2 linked regions of the Homo sapiens genome follow. The protein of the gene in region 1 interacts with the protein of each later gene in a biochemical or structural test. Each region holds a gene or a part of one and is shown on either strand. Other genes may lie near its edges.

Region 1 (3,813 bases):
CCTTAGAAAATATTGAAATAAGCTCAAAACTTAAAAAAAAAAATACCAGAAATAAAAGCTAGTAAAGGTGAGAGGTGTGGGGCTTTTGGAACATAGAGCATAATAAATCAGAATAAAAAGTAAAAATAAGAAAGAGAAAAAAGTGGCCCTGATTAAATTATAAAATTAAGCATATCTTGAATTCTAACGAGCCAAACAAAAATTCTACTAGGCCAGTATAATAGGGCCTGCAGAGCCTGTCATGGGTTCAGGGTTTTCCCATAAAGATAGGTGTACCTCAGATACTACTCCTAGGTCCTGGCTTTAACCTCAAAGCCCCTCTGCCTGTCCTGCTCTGAAACCTCTGGGGCAGTAGGCATTGACTTCTGGGCTAGGGAGTAAATGTTCCGTGTCCTTATGTGAGCTTCCTATTACCCATTAGCATTGTTTTATGAAGTTTTCAATTTTATATCCTGCCTCATTTCAAAAAGATTGTGATAATCACTTTAGCAGATGATTTGCATTGCAGCAACTGTTCTCCCAGTCCTGGTTAGGATCTGTGCCTGAGGCCTTTTGTGGGGAGTTGGGGTGGGGGCCGGAGAACATCTCAATCTGATCTCAGGAGAGATAAAGACACAGGAGTGAGAACTGCCAGTTCCAAGGTTTCCGTGATGTTCCGGGAAGCCAGGAGAAGTGACATAGTGGAGAGCCGGCATGCTGGGAGCCTAGTGACTTGGATCTTAATCCTGTCTCACACTGATGGCTGTATGGCCTCCACATACTTCTGTGCCCAGGGTCAGAGTTCCCTCCTGCCGCCTGTTTCTAGTCAAGAGCTAGAAGAATAGCCAGCTTCTTTGGGTGGTGGCAAAGGGGATTGTTTATTTATAGTACAGATTCCTGCCCTCCCCCTTTGACCTCCTGAATCAGAATCTCTAGGGACACGGCCTGGAAGTTTGATTTTTTTTTTTTTTTTTTTGTTTTTGAGACAAGAGTCTTGCTCTGTCGCCCAGGCTGGAGTGCAGTGGCATGATCTCGGCTCACTGCAGTCTCTGCCTCCCGGGTTCAAGCAATTCTCCTGCCTCAGCCTCCTGAGTAGCTGGGATTACAGGCATGTGCCACCATGCCTGGCTAATTTTTGTGTTTTTTGTAGAGACGGGGTTTCACCATGTTGGTCAGGCTGGTCTCGAACTCCTGACCTCATGATTGCCCGCCTCGGCCTCCCAAAGTGCTGGGATTACAGGCGTGAGCCACAGCGCCCAGCTGAAAGTTTTTTTTTTAATGCTCATCTCTGAGTTGATTCTGACACTCAGCCACTTGTGGGAATTGCTGATCTGGACAATGCCTAGGGATCCTTCTAGCTAAAAAATTGAGACCCTATTTTTTGGATTTACAGGGCCTCCTCAGGAAGGGGCAGCCACTCTCAGGTCTGCTGTGTGTGCCCTACCATTCCTCCCACTATATCACAAACTGGCACCTAGAAACTGGTCTCCATGCCCAGTCGTTGCTGGGGCACCCTGTATGAAGCCCTGCTGGCTGGTATTCCTGTAGGACATATTCTCTGATGTCCAGGAGTCTGAGGTTCTACAGAATGCCCCTGGGGAAACAAGAGTGGCATTTAGACAACAGCATTCTGTAAACACAGTGCCAAGAGCTAAGGGAAAGAATGGGGGTGGGGGTGATCGGAGGGAAGACACGGATGGATTGGTAGGGGCCCTTTGGGTAGGAAGATCTCATGTGCAAGGCTGGAATGAACATGAGGTGCTGTTTCCTTCCTTTCTGGTGACTCGGCTGTGTGGGGAGCTGGGGATAGAGACCTGTCACCCAGAGGGTTCTTTCCCCAAAGCATAAACAGTCGTCTTTCTGTGAGTACAAAGTCCTTGAGGTTCAGGCCCAGATCTAAAGCAGAGCAGAGAACTTGGAACTTGGTAGCTACAAAAAAGTTTTGAAAATCTTGCTGGCATTTCTCTAATAGGCCATAGCCTCTGTAACAAGGATATTTGCCATCATATTGAAAATGATAAGAAAGGGGGAAAGAAAAGAAAGTGTACAGTGCTTTTGAGTACATAACCTAGACACTCTATGGAGGCTTTTTGTTGTTGTAGGGCTTTTGGTTTGTGTGCTTGGTTTTTTTGTGTGGCTTTAAATTTTGTTTTGTTTTGTTTGCCCTTTGTTTTTGCTTCCGCTTTGAGTCTCCCCCCCACCCTCAAAAGGAATAGAATTTTACTGGAAAATGAAAATATAGAAAAGTGAAGAAATCTTACCTGACCCAAAAGTATATCCTTAATATATACATCCTTCCAGTAATAGTAATAAAAAAAAAAAGCCTAATGGTTTTTAAAAGACACTTCCCTATAATTGAGAGATTTGTTATCCTATTACCCTCACCCTTCAATACACACACACACCAGAAACAACAGTCATCTGCCAGTAATTCCTAGCTGGGTCCATTTACCAGCTGTGCACTGATAATGATTTACTTTGTAGGCAGTACAGTTGTAAATGCTCTTCCTCTGATTTATTTCACATTTGCCCTGCTCCCTGCCTCCATCAACCAATTACTACATTTTTGTCAAGATAAAAGTGTATTTACATGTTTTTATAGAGTCCTTCACCGTGGTTGGAGATGCCCTACTCACCTCTCTTCCCAGATAAAACTTGGCATTTAAAATCTTACAAATCTAGGTGAGCAAAGAGCTGAAGGTTCTCAGATTCCTTTGATTAAAGACTATGACCACAGTTTCTAACTACATTTGCATTTCCAACTCTGTATTGTGGATCCATAAGCTGAGAACGTTGCTTTTATTAAAATTAGGTTGGTTTTACTCATCTTACTGAGCCCATACTCTGTGCAGAGAACTGTGAGTTCTCTGGATGTGAGCAGCTTACAGTTCAATGACAAAGACAGGGCTGTGTGTAGAGAAATTTGTTATCCTATTACCATGGGTCCCTAAGTGTGTATTGTAATTTCTAGAAAACTCCTAAGTGTTCTGAAAACCCCACCACCCCTTAGTGAACATACATTCAAAGTGGATGAGGATATTTTACCTGATTAGTAAATTCCATCTCCCACTTCCATGCACAATATTTAAACAGCCACCAGTGCAAGTGTGTATAATGGACCATCATAGTCTTATAAGTGTTCTGAGGCTCATAGCAACAATTTCTTATGACAGGAAAAAAATCATTGCCTCTCAAAGAAACCAACATTTTATTTCAGTGACAGATACCAAGTAAAAACAGTACTTGTATTATTTTTCTTTTTAGGAGTTTGATACTTTTCTTGTATTAACCTTGACTTCAAAGAAAAATCATAGGCTTACATCAAAAACACTTGGGAAATTTGTCTTGGCTCTGTTCCAATGAGGCCAGTTATTCTAAAAGGGGTTACTGGATTGTGTTGGGCCTTCATGTGGTGTGTATTTTAGAACCACTGAATTTTAAACTATTTAAGTTCCTTTGTAAGGATCCTATGATAAAGTGGCTTGAAGGAAAGAGTTGAGTGAAACTCTTGAGTCCGATTTCTGGCTGTACTGCTATTGTCTTACATGGCTGAGCCTGGGTAAGTCTTGTCTCAGTTCACACTTCAGGCCCCCAGTGAGTGAGGTGGCCGTGATGACGCTCTTGTTTAACAGGCAAGTAAAGCCAGGGTGTTGAACTCTACGGAAGTGGGCCGGGCGCAGTGGCTCACGCCTGTAATCCCAGCACTTTGAGAGGCCAAGGCAGGTGGATAAGGAGGTCAGGAGATTGAGACCATCCTGGCTAACACGGTGAAACCCCGTCTCTACTAAAAATACAAAAAAATTAGCCGGGCGTTGTGGCGGGCGCCTGTAGTCC
Region 2 (3,813 bases), on another chromosome or scaffold:
CAAAGTGCTGGGATTACAGGGGTGAGCCACTGTGCCTGGCCCATTTTTTAGTTTATTTTTATATTTTATTTTGTTCTATTCTATTTTTTTGTTTTATTTTATTTTATTTGAGATAGCATCTCACTCTGTCGCCCAGGTTGGAGTGCAGCGGCACAATCTTGGCCCACTGCAACCTCTGCCTCCTGAGTTCAAGCAATTCTCCTGCCTCAGCCTCCTGAGTAGCTGGGACTACAGGTGTGCCCCACCACACCGGCTAGTTTTTGTATTTTTGGTAGTGACAGGGTTTCACCACGTTGGCCAGGCTGGCCTTGAACTCTTGACTTTAAGTGATCCGCCTGCCTCGGCCTCCCGAAGTGCTAGGATTACTGGCATGAGCCACCATACCCAGCCCATTTTCATTTTTAGAGACAGGGTCTCACTCTGTCGCCCAGGCTGGAGTCCAGTGATGCAATCATTGTAACCTTGAACTCCTGGGCTCAAGTGATTCTCCCACTTCAGCCTCCTAAGTAGCTGGGACCACAGGCAGACACCACTGCATTTGGCTAAACTCTTAAATTTGTTGTAGAGATGGCGGTGGAGGGGGGTTCTATTTTGCCCAGGCTGGTCTGAAACACCTGACCTCAAGCAATCCTCCTGCCTCAGCCTCCCCAAGTGCTGGAATTACAGGTGTGAGCCACTGCACCCCGCCTGAGGCATCCTTTCGAGACTGGAAACTGAGGCCCAGAGTGGGCCTATCACATGACTGACTTCTAGCATTGAAGTTCCAGCCTGCCACGCATCAGCTGGAAGATCTGTGCAAAAGCGAGCCAGCTTCTCCGGGTCTCAGTTTTCTCATCTGCGGAAAGGGTATGTTGATAACAAGCACCTGTCTGCTGGGGTGTTGGCAGAGTGAGTGAGTTTGTGAATGGAAGATGAGCATAAGCACAGTACCCGGCCTATAGTATAGTTAATGCCAAATATCCTGTCCCCAAAAGCCTTCAGACATCAGGGTGCCCTCCTGGCCTCTATGACCTCTGCGCAGTGAGGACAGGGCGGTACCTGCAGCCCAATGATGTTCCGCCCTTCTCTTAGCTTCCCCGGCTCGAATTTCCGCTCCTGCTTCTCTGCGTACTTCACTCCCACGTTCACCTTGTTTCCTTTCGTCTTCGCCTAGGTGGGGCAGGGAAAGCAGGGACTGACAAGGGGGCCTCCAGGCTGCACAGTCCCCTTGGACACTGTTTTTTTGTTGTTGTTGACACAGAGTCTCGCTCTGTTGCCCAGGCTGGAGTGCAGTGGCGTGATCTCAGCTCACTGCAAGCTCCGCCTCCCGGCTTCACACCATTCTCCTGCATCAGTCTCCCTAGTAGCTGGGACTACAAGCGCCTGCCACCATGCCCGGCTAATTTTGTTTTGTAGTTTTAGTAGAGACAGGGTTTCACCATGTTAGCCAGGATGGTCTCAATCTCCTGACCTTGTGATCCACCTGTCTCGGCCTCCCAAAGTGCTGGGATTACAGGCGTGAGCCACCGTGCCCGGCCAACACTGTTTTTTGTTTTTTGTTTTTTTTTTTTTGAGACGGAGTCTTGGCTCTGTCACCCAGGCTGGGCAGTGGCACGATCTCGGCTCACTGCAGACTCCGCCTCCCGGGTTCAAGCGATTCTCCTGCCTCAGCCTCCTGAGTAGCTGGGATTACAGGCATGCGTCACCACGTCCAGCTAATTTTTGTATTTTTAGTAGAGACGGGATTTCACCATGTTGGCCAGACTGGTCTCAAACTCCCGGCCTCAAGCAATCCGCTCACCTTGGCCTCCCAAAGTGCTGGGATTACAGGTGTGAGCGACCGCGCCCGGCCCCCTTGGACGCTGTTGACAGCACCTGCTCCCCGATCCCTGCCCCCCGCTCCGCCACCTTCACTGGGCTCAGGAGCACAAGTGGCCACACCTGCATCCCAGCCCAGGCTGCCCACCACCCCCTGCCCAGCCTGCAACCACACTCACCATGCTGGCCAAAGCCAGGAGGGTGGACTGCACCTGTGTATGGTTGGTGTTCTCAAACAGGTCGTTGGCCTCAAAAATGTCGTGGGGCTTCACCCCATACTTGGTGATGGCCTTGATGAAGTTGCCGATGTTCTCCAGCTAGAGGGGGGCAGGTGGTGGTCACTGGGTGGGGAGGGGAGGTCTGAGGGGCTTGCGGGCAAGGATGGAAGAGATTGTGTCTGGGCTCACCTGGTGCCAATTTTGGGTTGACTCATTGATCTTCTTCACGGAGCCTGGCTGCAGCTTATTGATGAATCTGAGAAGAGTGGGGAAGGGGTAAGAAAGGTGTCCCCCCAGGGTTGGGCACGGTGGCTCACGCCTGTAATCCCAGCACTTTGGGAGGCCAAGGCGGGTGGATCACGAGGTCAGGAGAGCGAGACTATCCTGGCCAACATGGTGAAACCCCATCTCTACTAAAAATACAAAAATTAGCCAGGCGTGGTGGCACATGCCTGTACTCCCAGCTACTCAGGAGGCTGAGGCAATCACTTGAACCCAGGAGGCGGAGGTTGCAGTGAGCTGAGATTGCAGCACTGCATTCCAGCTTGGGGACAGAGCGAGACTCCGTCTCAAAAAAAAAAAAAAAAGAAAGAAAGGTGTCCCCCACTCCCGCTCTCCAGCCCAGCCCAGCAGGAGGAGGGTGACGGGATGACCACAAGGGGCCATGCCATACCCTAGCGTCACTTCTCCCTGCAGTCAGCTCTCAGCTGCAGCCCCTCCAAACCACCCAAGCACACACACAAATGGGACACTGATGCCAAGGAGCTAGACTCAGGTCCCAGTCAGAAAGCCTGCTTATCCAAGGTGTGTCCGAGTCTCTGGGATCTCCGAAGCCTCACTGGCAGGCGTGTCTCAGCATCCTTTTCTCTTGTAGACAGCAGGAAGCCCACAAGGGCCTCTTCTCTGACTCACTCCTTTAATGATCTCGCCTCTTTTTTCTTTTCTTTTCTTTTTTTTTTCTTTTTGATGCAGGGTGTGGCTTTGTCGCCCAGGCTGGAGAGCAGTGGTGCAATCACAGCTCACTGCAGCCTCAACTTCCCAGGCTCCAGCGATCCTCCCACCTCAGCCTTCCGAGTAGCTGGGATCACAGGTGCGCACCACCATGCCTGGCTTTTTTTTTTTTTTTTTTTTTGGTAGAGAGGGGGTTTCACTGTATTTGTATTGCCCAAGCTGGTCTTGAACTCCTGGGCTCAAGCGATCCTCCTGCCTCAGCCTCCCAAAGCGCTGGGATTACAGGCATGAGTGACAGCACCTGGCCTCATTCAGTGTCTTGACTTTAAGTGCCTCCATATGCCAGCAACTCCCTCATCTCCCTGCAGCTTGGGTTTCTTACCATCTCATTCAGCTCTCTCCATGGGTGCCTGGGTGTCTCAAATCAAACTCACCCTGCTCCAGACTCCTGACATGCAGCTTCCCCCTCCAGACTCCCCCCTCCCTCCACCTTCCCTGCCTAGCAGTGCCCCCTTCTAGGTGCTCAGCCAGAGCCCTTGGACTTGCCCCCAACTCCCCCTTTCTCCTTCTCTCAGCCTCATGTCCAGTCCCTCCAAAGTTCTTTGGCTCTGCCTTTTAATGAGTCCAGAAAACCACCCACTGCTCCCCGCCACCTCCACCTGGGTCTCAGCCACCAGAGTCTGTTTCCTGGCCTCTTGTAATGAGCTCCCAACTTCCACTTCATCCCCTACAGACCCACCCTTCTTCATCCAGCAGCCAGAATTTTTTTTTTTTTTTCCGAGATGGAGTCTTGCTCTGTCACTCAGGCTGGAAGGCAGTGGCGGGATCTCGGCTCACTGCAACCTCT

Evidence for each region.
Region 2: the proteins of TPM1 (region 1) and CNN1 form a complex in vitro, tested with the Homo sapiens proteins (one study listed by BioGRID).

What each region holds. Positions count from the first base shown.
Region 1 is NC_000015.10:63,052,738-63,056,550, forward strand, and holds part of TPM1 (tropomyosin alpha-1 chain), read left to right. Parts: intron 1-3,813. UniProt on the Homo sapiens protein: Binds to actin filaments in muscle and non-muscle cells. Plays a central role, in association with the troponin complex, in the calcium dependent regulation of vertebrate striated muscle contraction.
Region 2 is NC_000019.10:11,545,133-11,548,945, reverse strand, and holds part of CNN1 (calponin-1), read right to left. Parts: intron 2,272-3,813; coding exon 2,205-2,271; intron 2,115-2,204; coding exon 1,977-2,114; intron 1,150-1,976; coding exon 1,039-1,149; intron 1-1,038. UniProt on the Homo sapiens protein: Thin filament-associated protein that is implicated in the regulation and modulation of smooth muscle contraction. It is capable of binding to actin, calmodulin and tropomyosin. The interaction of calponin with actin inhibits the actomyosin Mg-ATPase activity.